Homo sapiens: one gene and its partner. The protein of the gene in region 1 interacts with the protein of each later gene in a biochemical or structural test. Each region holds a gene or a part of one and is shown in the gene's direction. Other genes may lie near its edges.

Region 1 (6,861 bases):
TGTGTGCAATTAAAGCATCAGCAACTCAAAGTTGGTGGTCAGAAGAGCAGCTTTCTTTGTATTTGCCTTCAGTTTATTGTGGTCTGAATTTTGATCTCCGGTTTTGGGCTGAAAGAATGAAAAGTGTTTATTCTGACAGTGACATTTGGTTTTTACTCATCTGTTTAGTAAACCTTTTTGATGTAAAATAATGTTCAATCCTGTCTAGAAATTGCTGTAGAAAGCAAACTCTTCTCAAACTTTAGGCAGAGCTAAATATATTTTTTCAATATTCAAACAGTTATCTGTATGTTAAAATAAATTCTGGGCCAGGCATGGTAGCTCACGCTTGTAATCTCAGCACTTGGAGAGGCCAAGGTGGGAGGATCACTTGAGGTCAGGAATTAGCGACCAGCGTAGGCAACATGGGGAGACTGTCTCTACAAAAAAAAAAAAAAAAAAAAGAAAGATTAAAAATTAGCTGGGCATGGTGGCACACACCTGTAGTCCCAGCTACTCGGAAGGAGGCTGAGGTGGGAGGATTGCTTACGGCCAGGAGTTCAAGGCTGCAGTGAGGTATGATCATGCCATAGCAATCCAGGCTGGGTGACAGAGTGAGACCCTGTCTCTTAAAAATAAATAAGTAAATACATACATACTGGACTTGTTTGCTAAATCTTAGCGATAGGGACTGTAAAACTTTTCTTTTTCTTGCTTTTTTTTGAGACGGAATTTTACTCTTGTTGCCCAGGCTGGAGTGCAATGGCATGATCTCGGCTCACTGCAACCTCTACCTCCTGGGTTCAACCAATTCTCCTGCCTCAGCCTCCCGAGTAGCTGCGATTATAGGCATGCACCACTACACTTGGCTAATTTTTGTATTTTTAGTAAAGACAGGGTTTCACCATGTTGGTCAGGCCGGTCTCGAACTCCTGACTTCAGGTGATCCACCTGTCTTGGCCTCCCAAAGTGCTGGGATTACAGGTATGAACCACTGCACCTGGCCAGGAAAACTTTTCTTACAAGATGGTAATTCGGTCGGGTGCAGTGGCTCATGTCTGTAATCCTAGCACGTTGTGAGGCTGAGATGGGAGGATCACTTGAGGCCAGGAGTTTGAGACCAGCCTGGTCAACATAGTGAGACCCCCATCTCTATTAAAAAAAAAAAAGATAGTAACTTAAGGAAATAAAATTAACAAAAGGACTGATTTCTTATGTACTTCTATGCTGACTTAGTGTAACCCAAAATTTAACATGCTATTTAATATGTCAGTGCAACTGCTTTTTAGTTTCTGTTTATTGTTCAGGATAATTTTTTCTCCTGATATTCTTGAAGTAAATTTTTAGCTTTAAACAAATTCTTCTGTCACAGAATGACCTTGGTTTTAAAAAAGGGAATTGACTATACTTGCAAAGTTCATTTTTTTTTTCTAAAAAAGAAAAAGGCAGTATTTACACATCTGAATCCTTAATTTGTACCAGTTCTTCAGCACTGTCTTACTTCCTGGCTGCAGGGCCATTTGTTGCCGTATGGTGTTGTAACTTTAGGTTGGTGCAAAAGTAACTGTGTTTTGCATTGACATGGCACCAGCCTAAGAGCTAGCTCTAACTGGCTGAATGTCTTTTCTGACTTTCAACATCACACCAGCTGTATTAGCAGAGATGACTAAGCATTGGGTAATTTCACTTCATGCTAACCACTATAAATTGGTTCAGTTGATGTGTGTGTGTGTGTGTGTGTGTGTGTGTGTGTGTAGACTCCTATATAATTTCTACAATCCTTGCTTTAAAACCTGCAAAATGTATTTTTTGTTTTGTCTTTTCCTTTTTGAGACAGGGTCTCCTTCTGTCACCCAGGCTGAAGTGTGATCATGGCTCACTGCAGCTTTGACCTCCTGGTCTCAAGCAATCCTCCTGCCTCAGCCTCCCAAGTAGCTGGGACTACAGGCATGCACCATCACGCTCAGCTAATTTTTAAATTTTTGTAGAGATGGAGTCTTGCTATGTTTCCCAGGCTGGTCTTGAACCCCTGGGCTCAAGTGATCCTCCCACCTCAGTCCCCCAAAGTGTTGGGATTATAGGTGTGAGCCACTGTGCCTGGCCAAAACCTGCAAACCATGTTAAATCTATGTTGTGTTCCTTTCGGAAGAGATGTCTAATATTAACTTGTGTTATATAAAATCTAAAACATAGGCTTTCAATATTGTTTTAACAGTATATAACAGAATTGGCAAATGCCCTGTCTTACTGTCATTCGAAGAGAGTTATTCATAGAGACATTAAGCCAGAGAACTTACTTCTTGGATCAGCTGGAGAGCTTAAAATTGCAGATTTTGGGTGGTCAGTACATGCTCCATCTTCCAGGTATGTAACTTTAGAGGTGGAAGTTGTTTGGTTTACCAAAGCCCTGGGAGCTAACCGTGAGCTAAATGTAAAATATTTCAGTGTAGATTTTGTGCTGTAAGAGGGGTAGGTGGCTAACCCAGAAGTACTTTGGAGTAATTTAGGCTTAATAATAAACTAGGGTTTGCAAGAAAGTGTTATTCTGTGGAGATTTGGGGCTATTAGCAGTGTTCTAGGCCTAGGGTTGAAGATGCTTAATGTCCTTAGAGGCTAATGAAGGGATGAATGAGTCAACAGATAGGACACGTATATGACAGAGGTGAAGTGCCCACATGTTGAGTGGGAGGAACTCTTCACCTCTGCTGCTTCCTGGATGAGGAGATGGGGAGATGGTTCAGAGGACAGCACTGACAAAGATCTAGAGCTCAGAGTGCAGGCCATATCAGGGAACTTGAAACACTAAATTAGTTTGGTGGTGCTTTGAGGGCAGTGGTGAGAGATTCTCTTCAGTCTGCCTCTGTCAATAGTAGGGATAGTCCTTTCTTATCCCCTGTCACAGCTGAAGCAGAGATGTCAGTCTCAAAACAATTCAAATCTTAGCTTTCCAAGTGAACTACAATATCTTTACTGTTTTAAATTTGAGTTTAAATAAGCTTTGAAACTTCACATGAAGTGGGGCATTTTAAAACATATATCTACCGATGAAGTTTTGTCAACTTTGGAGGAGGACTCAAATTATAGCCAAATGACTTAAAAATCAAGCTAGTTAAAAAAAAAGTATAGCCTAAAATAGAATATGAGGGAGAAAACCTTTGCTTTTGTTACAGAGCACTTCTAATTGTTCCAGCAATGCACTGAATCTGCTATTGCAGTCTTTTTTTTTTTTTTTTTTTTTAAACTGGTTGTCATTAGTGGGAGCTGTTATCTGGTGAGACAAACCAGAATAAAGACTTACAGGCTTCATGGAATCGCAGAGTTAAACTGTATCTTAACCGGTTGAATTGTGATAGAAAAGATGGCTTCTTGCTTTTTGAAAAGATTACTTACATAACCGATAGTCACTTCACTCCAAATCCCAGATGTTAATCATCATCATTTCCTGGTTATTGCCTCAGTTTGAGAACCCCCGATTCAGTCCGTCGGTGCTGATGGAGGGGTTAGATGACCAGAGTGGTAGCTTCTTAATCCTACGTCACAATTCAGTGGTGAGTGACTGTTTGTGTGCTCAGTGGGTGCCAGGCCTGGCTGAACACAGCACCAGGGCTGTGACCACGTAAGCCTCCATGGTGAAGAGCAGCTGATAACAAAGCAACACGAACCCACACAGACTGTTCTGGCTTGCTGTCTGCTGTTCCCAGCTTTTTTCCAACCTTCGTTAAAAAAACCTAAACCGATAAAAATGCGGAATTGGTAGTTGATGGCATACCTGTCTATACAGTGCCTACGTTCAGCAGTTTTTCCCATTTAGTCAGAAGGGCTGCATCTGCTTTTTTAGTGAACACTTGAAAATACGTTGCAAACATCATGATGCTTCAACCTTAAGCACTATAATAGAATGCATTTCCTAAATAAGGATATTCTCCTATATAACTAGAACCATGATCACTCCTAAGAAAATTAACAGCATTGTCAGTATCTAATATTTAGTCCACATTCAGATTTCTCCTATTGTCCATGACATCTTATAGCTGGTTTGTAAAATCAGAACTCAACCAAAGCCCATGCTTTGTATTGGACTGTCTATGTGGTTGGATTGTCTCTGTGGTTGGACTGTCTCTGTGGTTGGACTGTCTCTGTGGTTGGATTGTCTCTGTGGTCTAAAGCCAGACCAGTCTCCCACTTTAAAGAGGACTTTTCTGATTGTGTTGCCACTTAACTTGGACCTTTATTCCCCGTATTTGCTGAAAACTGGAATGTAGGTCTCAGGTCCTGAAGAGATTCAGGTTAAGAAAATTTTTTTTTTTTTTTGAGACAGAGTCTCGCTCTGTCACCCAGGCTGGAGTGCAGTGGTGCGATCTTGGCTCACTACAAGCTCGCCTCCCGGGTTCACGCCATTCTTCTGCCTCAGCCTCCTGAGTAGCTAGGACTACAGGCGCACACCACCACACCCGGCTAATTTTTTGTATTTTTAGTAGATACGGCGTTTCACCATGTTAGCCAGGATGGTCTCGATCTCCTGACCTCGTGATCCGCCTCCCTCGGCCTCCCAAAGTGCTGGCATTACAGGCATGAGCCACTGCACCCAGCCAGGTTAAATATTTTTGGCAAGAGTACTTCATAGGCCACCCTCAAAATTTCAGCATCACTCGTACCAAGTATCTATCACAAGGCAGCATGTGTCTACATCTCCACCCCAGTGCTGTTACAGTGGGACAGTTTCTAGTGTATTGTCATTGCGACCAGGCTTTTAAGATTCTTAGCATATCTGTAATATCCACATGCAGATGTAGAATCCAAATCGTATTTACAGAGAACTTTGCATGGCAGCTTTTATATGGTAGTGATACATTCAGTTTCTTACATTCTAGATTATTCAGGGAGGTTCTGGAGTTGGACAGATTTGGGGTTAAGCCTGATGGCTAGCTGTGTGACCTTACACACCTCGCTTCATCTGTTTCCTATGGGAATTTATAATAGTAGCTACTTCCTAGGGCACAGGATCTGGCCCAGGGGAAGACCTCAGTGTTAGTGGACTCTTTAATGATTGTTAGCAGCTGTTGTGATCATAAAACGAGAAGCACATCAACCTGAGCCTCCCTCCGTTTTCAGGAGGACCACTCTCTGTGGCACCCTGGACTACCTGCCCCCTGAAATGATTGAAGGTCGGATGCATGATGAGAAGGTGGATCTCTGGAGCCTTGGAGTTCTTTGCTATGAATTTTTAGTTGGGAAGCCTCCTTTTGAGGCAAACACATACCAAGAGACCTACAAAAGAATATCACGGGTAAGACGCAACTGAAAAGGACCCAGCACATCTGCTGGAATTCTTTCCTTATCAGCCTGAACTGCAGGCCAAGATCCGAACATCTATACTATTTGATCTCTCTAACCTGTGTTTTGTGATATTTTATCATTTGTTGTACTCCAGGTTGAATTCACATTCCCTGACTTTGTAACAGAGGGAGCCAGGGACCTCATTTCAAGACTGTTGAAGCATAATCCCAGCCAGAGGCCAATGCTCAGAGAAGTACTTGAACACCCCTGGATCACAGCAAATTCATCAAAACCATCAAATTGCCAAAACAAAGAATCAGCTAGCAAACAGTCTTAGGAATCGTGCAGGGGGAGAAATCCTTGAGCCAGGGCTGCCATATAACCTGACAGGAACATGCTACTGAAGTTTATTTTACCATTGACTGCTGCCCTCAATCTAGAACGCTACACAAGAAATATTTGTTTTACTCAGCAGGTGTGCCTTAACCTCCCTATTCAGAAAGCTCCACATCAATAAACATGACACTCTGAAGTGAAAGTAGCCACGAGAATTGTGCTACTTATACTGGTTCATAATCTGGAGGCAAGGTTCGACTGCAGCCGCCCCGTCAGCCTGTGCTAGGCATGGTGTCTTCACAGGAGGCAAATCCAGAGCCTGGCTGTGGGGAAAGTGACCACTCTGCCCTGACCCCGATCAGTTAAGGAGCTGTGCAATAACCTTCCTAGTACCTGAGTGAGTGTGTAACTTATTGGGTTGGCGAAGCCTGGTAAAGCTGTTGGAATGAGTATGTGATTCTTTTTAAGTATGAAAATAAAGATATATGTACAGACTTGTATTTTTTCTCTGGTGGCATTCCTTTAGGAATGCTGTGTGTCTGTCCGGCACCCCGGTAGGCCTGATTGGGTTTCTAGTCCTCCTTAACCACTTATCTCCCATATGAGAGTGTGAAAAATAGGAACACGTGCTCTACCTCCATTTAGGGATTTGCTTGGGATACAGAAGAGGCCATGTGTCTCAGAGCTGTTAAGGGCTTATTTTTTTAAAACATTGGAGTCATAGCATGTGTGTAAACTTTAAATATGCAAATAAATAAGTATCTATGTCTGTGTGGAGTGCTGTGTAATTCTTTCCACCATCTGTTCATTGTTGGCCTGGAAATGAGCAGGGGCTGAGAGGAGCAGGTCTCGCCCTCATCTAGTCCTGCCTCTTCTGGTCTCTCCTGTTGGGTGTACTCCTAATACTTCATTATATATATTGTTTATATATTTGTCATATCTTTGTCATCTGTCCATCGACTAAAGATACGGTGAAAGTGACTGTGATGAAGGAAAAGTAGAAGTGTTGAACTTAGAGCTAGTAGAGAAATCTGCTTGCATGGCCAATGCTCAGTGCAAGAAACTGGACAGCAGGTATGTCAGGATATGTCATAACAAAGTGGCCAATATAGAGAAACTTAAAAACATGACTCAGTAAAACTGCAGCTGCCAGCCCCCTTGGGACAAAGGGGCTTCTGGTTCTCATAGTCTTGAGCTGAACTGACTTTGACCTTCCCAAATAGTTCATGTGCCACCCTCCCAAGCTATAGTTATTATCACGTGACTGAC
Region 2 (8,531 bases), on another chromosome or scaffold:
TGAACTGAGATGTGCTGCAAGTGCCAAGCACACACCAGGTTTCAAAGGCTTAGAACAAAAACAAATGTAAAATATCCCATTACTACTTTTTATGTTGATTACATGTTGAAGTGATCATATTTTGGGGTATATTGGGTTACATAAAATCTAAAAATTAATTTTACATGTTTCTTAAATGTGGCTGCTAGAAAATTTTGAACTACATGTGTGGCTCACATTATATTTCTACTGAACAGAAATGTTTTAAAATGTATGGTTCTGGGTTGCCATTTCTTTTGTGTGCACATCAAACTCTAGAGAATTCAAAGTAGTCTTGCTTGGGGAAAAATGTTTAATTTTCCATTCAAAACTATTCTAACAAAAAAGTAAAGATTTCATGTCATATTTGTTAAGTGTTTAAGAGCGTATGAGGGAGGGGCCAGGCGTGGTGGTTCACTCCTGTAATCCCAGCACTTTGGGAGGCCGACATGGGCTGATCAGCTGAGGTCAGGAGTTCAAGACCAACCTAGCCAACATGGCGAAACCCCATCTCTACTAAAAATACAAAAATTAGCTGTGTGTGGTGGCGTGTGCTTGTAATCCCAGCTACTTGGTAGGCTGAGGCAGGAGAATTGCTCGAACCTGGGAGGCAGAGGTTGCAGTGGAGGAGCTGAGATTATGCCACCACTGCTCTCCCGCCTGGGTGACAGAGTAAGACTCCACCCCCAAAAATGAAAAAAATAAATAAAAATAAAATTTAAAAGAAGAGTGAATGAGGGTGCAAACGCCAATGTTTCTTAAAGTAACATTTCATTTCCTCCCCCCTTCAAATGAAGCTACAGTGGCAGTCCTTTGGCACTTGCAGTCTTTAAAACAGTAGACCATTGCCAGCATCCAGCCACATGAAAAGGGATAATTCCAAAAGTAAAGATCAACCCCCCACCCACCCATCCCATGTATACATATGCAACATCTCTTCTCCACGTGAATGCCAAGTATTTGGAAAGTACCTAAGTGCTCAGCCCATGGGATCCAAAAGACACATGTGCAATAACCACTTCCTGCTATGCTTCAGTTGCTGCGCCAAACAATGAACAGAGAGACAAGGCATTCAATACACATGAGGACTGATGATCTGGGCTGAAAGAGCAGCAGAGGGAAGATTAGAAGGTCCACATGAGCAGAGTGGAGGGAGGGTAGGTTTCCTGCAGACACTGAGGATACATACCTTTGCATTGATCAGGAAGGACCTTGAATGTCAGGAAAAAGATCTAGGACCTGAAGTGAAAAGCAATGGTCAGAATGATCAAATGGAAGCCACGTTTTAGGGAAATCATTGCTCTCTTCTTCCCATGCTGTAGCGTGTGTATGTCCCCCAACTGGAGAATGTAATTAGAGTCCAATGCCACCTAACATCACTCCTTTACTGTCTCATGAGTGCATATTTTTACCTTCCCAAAAGAGAATGATGCATTCCTCAAGGGTAAGAACCAAGGTTGATTGTTACTTCATTTTGTTTTGTTTGAGACAGGTTCTCACTCTGTCACCAGGCTAAAGTGCAGTGGTGTAATCGTTGTTCACTGCAGCCTTGACCTCCTGGGCTCAATCGATGCTCCTATGTCAGTCTCCTGAGAAGTTGGGACCAGAGGCACGTGCTACCCAGCCTGGCTAATAAAAAAAGAGGAGTAGAGAAGGGGGGTCTCACTGTGTTGCCCAGGCTGGTCTTGAACTCCTGAGCTCAAGCCATCCACCCACCTTAGCCCCCAGAAATGTTGGGATTACAGGTGTGAGCCACCATGCCCAGCCTGATGTTTATTTTGAACATTGTGTGACTTTCAGGACAGTATTAGGCACAGGGTAGGCAATCAATGCTTACTTTAAAAAAATAAATTGTATGGAATCCTGGTTTCCTCTTCTTTCATTTTCTTCATAAGGAAAATGAATAGAGAATCCTAATTTCTAATAGGTGTCCCCCAGGGGCAAAAGTGTAAATCAGTTTGCCTTCTGTCACCTTCCCTTCCCTTTCCTATACTTTTCCTCTTTCTTCCTGGGTTCTTAACCACCAACATTTTGCTGCTGGAACTCTTAAGTCCCTGACTTGTATGTCTGGAACTCAAATTTCTCCCTTTTTCCTTTCCTCATTCATTTTCCTTAGGGCCTTGGGGAGATCATTGATGTCCCTTTCTTTCACCGAGTGAGTTCCTGGGCCAAACTATAACTGATCATCTACTTTAACAATCTGGCTGTCTTTGACACAGCTCTGCAACTTGCCTGAAAACTGTCCTGCTGAGTTCAAATGGTCACAGAAATAAGAAAGATATCGATTAAAGAAGTTTAGAAGGAGCCAGGAGTTGCTACATGAGTGACAGGCTGTTTGACTATTCTGTGAATAAAAAATAGTTTATACCCAACTGTGAGTTGGGAGAGGGTAGACTATGTTTGGTTAGAGCCTTTTTTTGGCTAAGAAAAAAAAAAATAACTTTTCAGGTTCCAGGAAATTTACAAAGCCTGACTTTTTCTCTCTCTTTTTCTCTCTCTCTCTCATTTGTCGTCTTGACTCTAAACTGATAATTTCAAAATTACTTCAAGAAGAAACAAAGAGTAGGCCAGGCGTGGTGGCTCACGCCTGTAATCCCAGCACTTTGGGAGGCCGAGGCAGGATCACTTGAGGTCAGGAATTCAAGACCAGCTTGACCAACATGGTGAAACCTTGTCTCTACTAAAAATTCAAAAATTAGCCAGATGTGGTTGTGCACATCTGTAATCCCAGCTACTTGGGAGGATGAGTCAGAAGAATCGCTTGAACGCAGGAGGCCAGGAGGTGGAGGTTTCAGTGAGACAAGATTGCACCACTGCACTCCAGCCTGGGCGACACAGTAAGACTCCATCTCAAAAAATAAATAAATAAATAAATAAAAAGAAAGAAAAGAAACAAAGAGTAACTTTCTCTTCCCTGGATTATTCTTTAGTTAACGTTTTAGAGCTTTAACCATCTGAGAAAGCCAGTTCCGTACTGTGAAATATGGCAGAAAACCCTTCAAAAACTTCACGTACAAATACTTCAAGGATCCTAGGTCCTTGAACAAGGTTCTTTGTAAAGTGAGAGTAAAAATCAGAGTCAGATAAGCTGCAACAGATAAGAGTGAAGTTTTGTTTGTAAAGGGTGATAACTCTGAATAAATATTTACATTTCTTCTTTTCTCTCTTATATTGGTTATAATGTAGAACTGGAGCCTGGTTGCTACTTCTGCTGTTATTTTGTGTTTAACAGAGAAAAGATCAAGTAATGGGCTCTAAAGGAAGTCTCTGCTTTTTTTTCCCATGACTCCAGTTTGGACTAAGACTAACCATGTGCTCAGTGCAAACCAAACTGCAGGCCCATTGTGTTAAATAAATCATCTTTCTTGGTAGAGTTGCTCTTGCCAACCCACACCACGCGGTAACCATGCTCCATGCTTTCCCTCCTTTGTAGCAAGGCTGGAGGTGATCCCAGTTCCCAGTCCCAGGGCTAACTCCACCCCACTTACTCCTCTCAAGAAAGCGCATCTTGTGTTTTTCAAATTACACAACCCCCAGCAATTCTGATCTTCCTGCACAGGGAGTGAATGCCACTTCCAATATCCCCTGACCCCCAGGAATCACTGTTTTAAACTAATGATCAATATCATCCTTAAGGATTCTTGCAGGTTAAAAAGCGATGCTTGGAGAGGTAACCAGTAGGATGAGGCTTCCATGGCAGAGATTAGGTGAAACAAGAAAGACACCTCTTCATTCTTACCTTCCAAGACTGTTGGCTGTTTTAGTGCCCAGTGAGCATTATTGTCTGTCTTACAAGATGACCTCTATGTAAGTATTCTGGTAACAGGTTAGCTATCCTCTTAATGAACTGCGTGTGTGTGTGTGTGTGTTGTATCATATTACTGGATGACTGAACAACCATGCATACAGTGTATGAGTGTGTGTTTGTGTGTGTATGTGTACTTATTCAAGACTGTTTAAAAAGGAGAGAGGAGCATAAATCTCTCTTATTCTGCAGGCACGCTTATATACCGTGTTGAAAGAAGAGAGCCTGGGCTTTTGAATAAGACTGAGATGTTTAAAATTTTTAAAAAAATTTTTTGAGGTAACTGTAAATTCGCTTGAAGTTGTAAGGAATAATAGAGAGATTCCCTATAGACGCTTCACTTAATTTTTCTCAATGGTAACATTTTGCATAACTGTAGAACAATATTACAATCAGTAAATGGACATTAGTGTAGTCCAAATGTCTTATTCAAATTTCATGAGTTTCACGTGCTCTCATTTGTGAGTGTATATTCAGTTCTATGCAATTTTGCCACATATGTGATCTGCTTTTGAATCTCAGTTCTGTGGAGTTCCTGCTGTGTGATCCTGAGGAAGCTCTTTGACTTCTGGGAGATCCATTTTCCTCATCTGCAAAATAATGTCTGCCTCCTAAGAGTGATGTGAGAATTAGATAAGATAATTTCTGTCGAGTTTCTAGCGCACTGGATTCTCAAGGAATGCTGGTTTCCTCTTGTCTGTTGCTTGCTTTCTCGGTAGAAAAGGAATCACCAGTTTCCTGCTAAAATAACCAGACTTGTGGGTTGTAATCCATCAGGCGGATCCTTCAAGGGCAACACATTTAACCCTGCAGCTCAAAAAGAACCATGGCCTGGACTTGGGATCCTATTTGACTGCAATGAGATCAGAAGTGTAGGGATGGGGGAGTGAGAACGCAGACTCTGGGGTAGTAGGTAGGAGGCGATTAATATCGAGCAACTGTTGGGCTGGGAACCACCAACTCCAAGGAGTTTTCGTCCTGTGTGGCTTGCGACCGAGGGTTAGCTTCACCCGGAGAAGGCTGCACAGGGGCGGGAGCCTGTGAGGACGTGGTGGGCAGGTGCGGAAGCCAGTGTAGACCCGGCAGGAGGGTCGCGCTCGCTCTACAGGGTTCCGAGTCACTTCTACAGCCCTTCTGCCTCCTGAACACCCTTTCCAATGTTGATGGCCAATCGACACCCGAGGGCTGGGAAATCACCCCCTTAAAGTCCCGCTTGCTGAAGGCGGGGGCCCTTCCTCTGCGCGAAGACGCTGCGGCCCGAGTGTCCGCGGTGCGGGTGAGTGTAGGCGTGTTGGGAAAGAAAGGGAGGCGGACAGGCAAGGGGCGAGGGTGGCAGCGCCAGCCCCAGCTCGGTGGCGACCTCGGGGCGCCAGCCTCCTACACCCGCACCCGGAGCCCCGGCGTTTCTAACTTCAGATCTCGGAGGCGGGCGCTCGGAGCGGGAGGGCGCGTCTGCGAGGGCTCAGGCGGCGCCGCCCGCTCCTCCCTCCGCTGCCTGAGCCGCGCGGGCCGCAGAGGAGGAGCCGCGCCGGGGCCGGCGTCGCCCTGACTCCTCCTCCCCGCGCGGGCCCGGCCCTTCCTCCCCGGCGTCCAGAGCTCCGGGTGGCCGCGGCCGAGCCGGGAGCCGAGCGCGCTGGGCGCGGCCGTCCCGCTGCCGCCGCCAAGCCCGGAGTGCGCCAGCGGCCATGGTTCCCGCGGCGGCGCCGGGCGCCTGAGCCCCGGGACGCAGTAAGTGGCGCAACCCCGGGGACCCGGACCCACGGCCTGGGGGTGCACGGAGGCCTCGCGCTGCCCCCGCGCCGTCGGCGAGGCCCTGAGAGCCCGGAGCGAACTGGGCACCGGATCACTCGGGGGCTTCCCATTTGGGGTCCGGGGCCAGCGGGGCGCAATCCCTGCGGGCCGGGAGGAAGCAGCGGCCGGGCGGGAGGACGAGGCGGGGACGGGGCTGCTTCGGAGGCGGGAGGAGGGGCCGGTCCCGGAGGCGCGGGCTGCGCGGGCGGGGGCGGGCCGGCGGGGGCGGGGAGGATGCGCGCTGCAGCCCGCGGCCCCCGAGAGCCGCGCTTTTGTAAGAGCTGGCCCCTTACATATGGAAATGACGCTCACGCGGGTCCCCATTCGCGTCCTTTTGAAGGACGCCCGCCCGGAACCGCTGCGCCGGCTGCGAAGTATTGTCCCGTTTCTCCAGCCCTAACAAAGCGTCCTCCTTCGCTTTGCAGAGCGCTGGAGGCGGGCTGCCGGCTGTGCGGGCGCTCCGGAGAGACCGACAGAAGGTAGGCGAGGGCGGCGGGGCCGGGGGAGCGCGCTGCCTGCCCACACAATGGGCTGTCTGAGGTTTCTGGTAGTGGCGATGGGCAGGCGAGTTGAGGACGCATCGCAGGTGGCCAGGGACTTGGGAGGCGCGCTTGTCCTGCGGCCGCACCTCCGCTTCCCCGCGCGGCAGCACCGCTGGGTTTGGGCACTTCCAGTACCCCCGACGCCCCGGCCGCCTGCCCGGAGCTGAAAGCCGCTTCTGTGCTTTGACCGAGAGCAGGCTTGAGTCCCCGAGGGAGCAGAAGGGGTGGTGGTTCCGTTGGCATGTGCCGCCCGTACAGCCTTGTGATTGAGACGCTGCAGAGGAAACTGCATGGGGAAATCCGAGGTGTTAGCCTGGGCTGTCTGAGTAGCGGAGAGCTGCTTGGAGCCCGGAAAGTGGAGATTTTTGGAGGTGTGCGGGGTCGATGCGCGTAAACAGTTTCCCAGTATAATGCCCAGGAGAAGGGGAAAGAACAAAATGACATTTGGTTATTGCCTAAAAGGTGTGGCATGGAGGTATGGAGTGTCGGGGAAGGAAGCTTCCAGCGGCTAGGCTTCTGTAGCTACCGAAGCGGCCCCTGACAGAAGGACACTAGGTGATGGGAACAGTCACTGCTTCCAGCTCTCGCTGCGAAGTTAAAAGAGATAGAGACGGAAAGAGGCAATTTCCCTAACCCCAGCCCTGACAACCCGAGGTGAAGGCACCAACAAAATGGGAGCTGGAAAGACTGCCCTACCATATATCATGTTTCCAGACAACTTGGATATTATGAGATCTGCTTTCTGCTCCTAACTAGGACAGATCCTCTCCTGGTGTTGAGGACTTCTAAGATGGGCTTGCCATACAGCTCAACTCCTGAATTTATTACATCGAAACAGATTGCGTAGTTGTCTTTTGTGACTGACATGGTAGCTTTGTAGGATGAGAATCCTGATAAAGTCCATCCTGACACATGAGGGAAGCCCCTGGAACCACGACGTTTCTCAGTTAGGTCCCCGTAAACACCATAACATACACACATGTTTGCATGATTCCGGAGGCTTGATGATCTAACAAGGAAAATTCCTTTTTTCTGTCAGTTTAATTTTACCTTGAGTCTTCTCTCGTGGTGAGCATATTATATAGGTGGCTGACCTGGAATATTGGTGGCTCTTGCTCCGGAGTTGAAGGGAGCTGAGGATTTCCAGAGTGTGTATAGGAGGAACATTACAGGCTGGCTGAAAAACGAGTTTGTGTGTTGTGGTCTCTTCAGCTATTGTCAGTGTCCTTTGGGAGGTGATGTGAACTGCCCGGGAATTTGTTTGCAGATTTGTTTATTTTCCCTGTTCTCTGGTGATTCTTTAGAGGGAAGCATTCTGCAGAGTGGGGAAAAGGTAGGATGAATGTTCCACAGGGTTGGACATCGGCAAAGTTATTACCAATACAGGGAAAGGCTTCACAGGGGGCAATAGAGAGGAAGCCATCATACAGTCTGCATTAAAATGTCAAGGATCAGTCATTTTAATAGGCACTTGCTCAGAATGGCGTGGGGTTCTTTTTTCTTATTTCTTTTTCATTTTAGATGTGTAATGACCCTTAATATCAAAAGATGTTAACTGTCACAGAGGGGGAGAATAGGGCTCCAGTGAATTCTGAACAGCCAATCTTAATGTAATAGGCAGTATTCTTATCATGAGTCAAATGTTCAAATAAATTGTTTTAAATGTCACTGCAAATGACTTTCTAAACTAACATTTCAACTATCTTGATGCTTCCATTTTATGTTGATAATGAAAATGCATTTTATCAGTCTTACATTGATAAAGGGTGGGCAAGCTTAGCCAGAGCATTTTAGAAGGATTTAAACAGCGTGAAGCCTTTTTAGAAGGCTTATTTTTATAGATGCCAATTCATTTGTAAGCCAATAAATTATCTGGTTTGAATTCTAGCTATTGAACTTGCATCTGTTGGGCAGGGGCTTATGGAGAGACTTAGTGAAGCTTGCAAAAAGATTTTTATCCTATTTATGAATAAAATAGAATTTTGAAAAGATTATGAGATTCTGAAAGTGAGCATCCTTGTTTGAAATTAGGACACTTCTTTATTGCAATTTAAGTCAGCAATTAACCATTTATTCAAGCTTTTGGATGGAAAAATTACAAAGCATCTATCTATACCCTAATTCTCACTTTAAAAACAAAGTTGGGAAAATATTGTTCATAGACGTGAGAAGAGAAGATCACCTTCACTTACACCTCAGGGTACCATACTCATAGCCTCAGGCATCCTAAATTAATGTGAGTCAATATGGCTTAAGAAGTGGAAGTTGTTATAAGCTTTCTCCTTTTTTTTTTTTTTTGTAACAAACATGCAGCTCTGTTTTCTGCTTCTGTAATTTACTTAGTAGTTGATTACAGGTTACTGAATGCACATTGT

What was found.
Region 2: of the proteins of AURKA (region 1) and NIN, one has a biochemical effect on the other in vitro, tested with the Homo sapiens proteins (2 studies listed by BioGRID).

What each region holds. Positions count from the first base shown.
Region 1 is NC_000020.11:56,368,890-56,375,750, reverse strand, and holds the end of AURKA (aurora kinase A), read left to right. Parts: intron 1-2,194; coding exon 2,195-2,343; intron 2,344-5,091; coding exon 5,092-5,266; intron 5,267-5,410; coding exon 5,411-5,593; 3' UTR 5,594-6,361; downstream 6,362-6,861. UniProt on the Homo sapiens protein: Mitotic serine/threonine kinase that contributes to the regulation of cell cycle progression.
Region 2 is NC_000014.9:50,828,026-50,836,556, reverse strand, and holds the start of NIN (ninein), read left to right. Parts: upstream 1-5,394; 5' UTR 5,395-5,551; intron 5,552-6,039; 5' UTR 6,040-6,093; intron 6,094-8,531. UniProt on the Homo sapiens protein: Centrosomal protein required in the positioning and anchorage of the microtubule minus-end in epithelial cells. May also act as a centrosome maturation factor.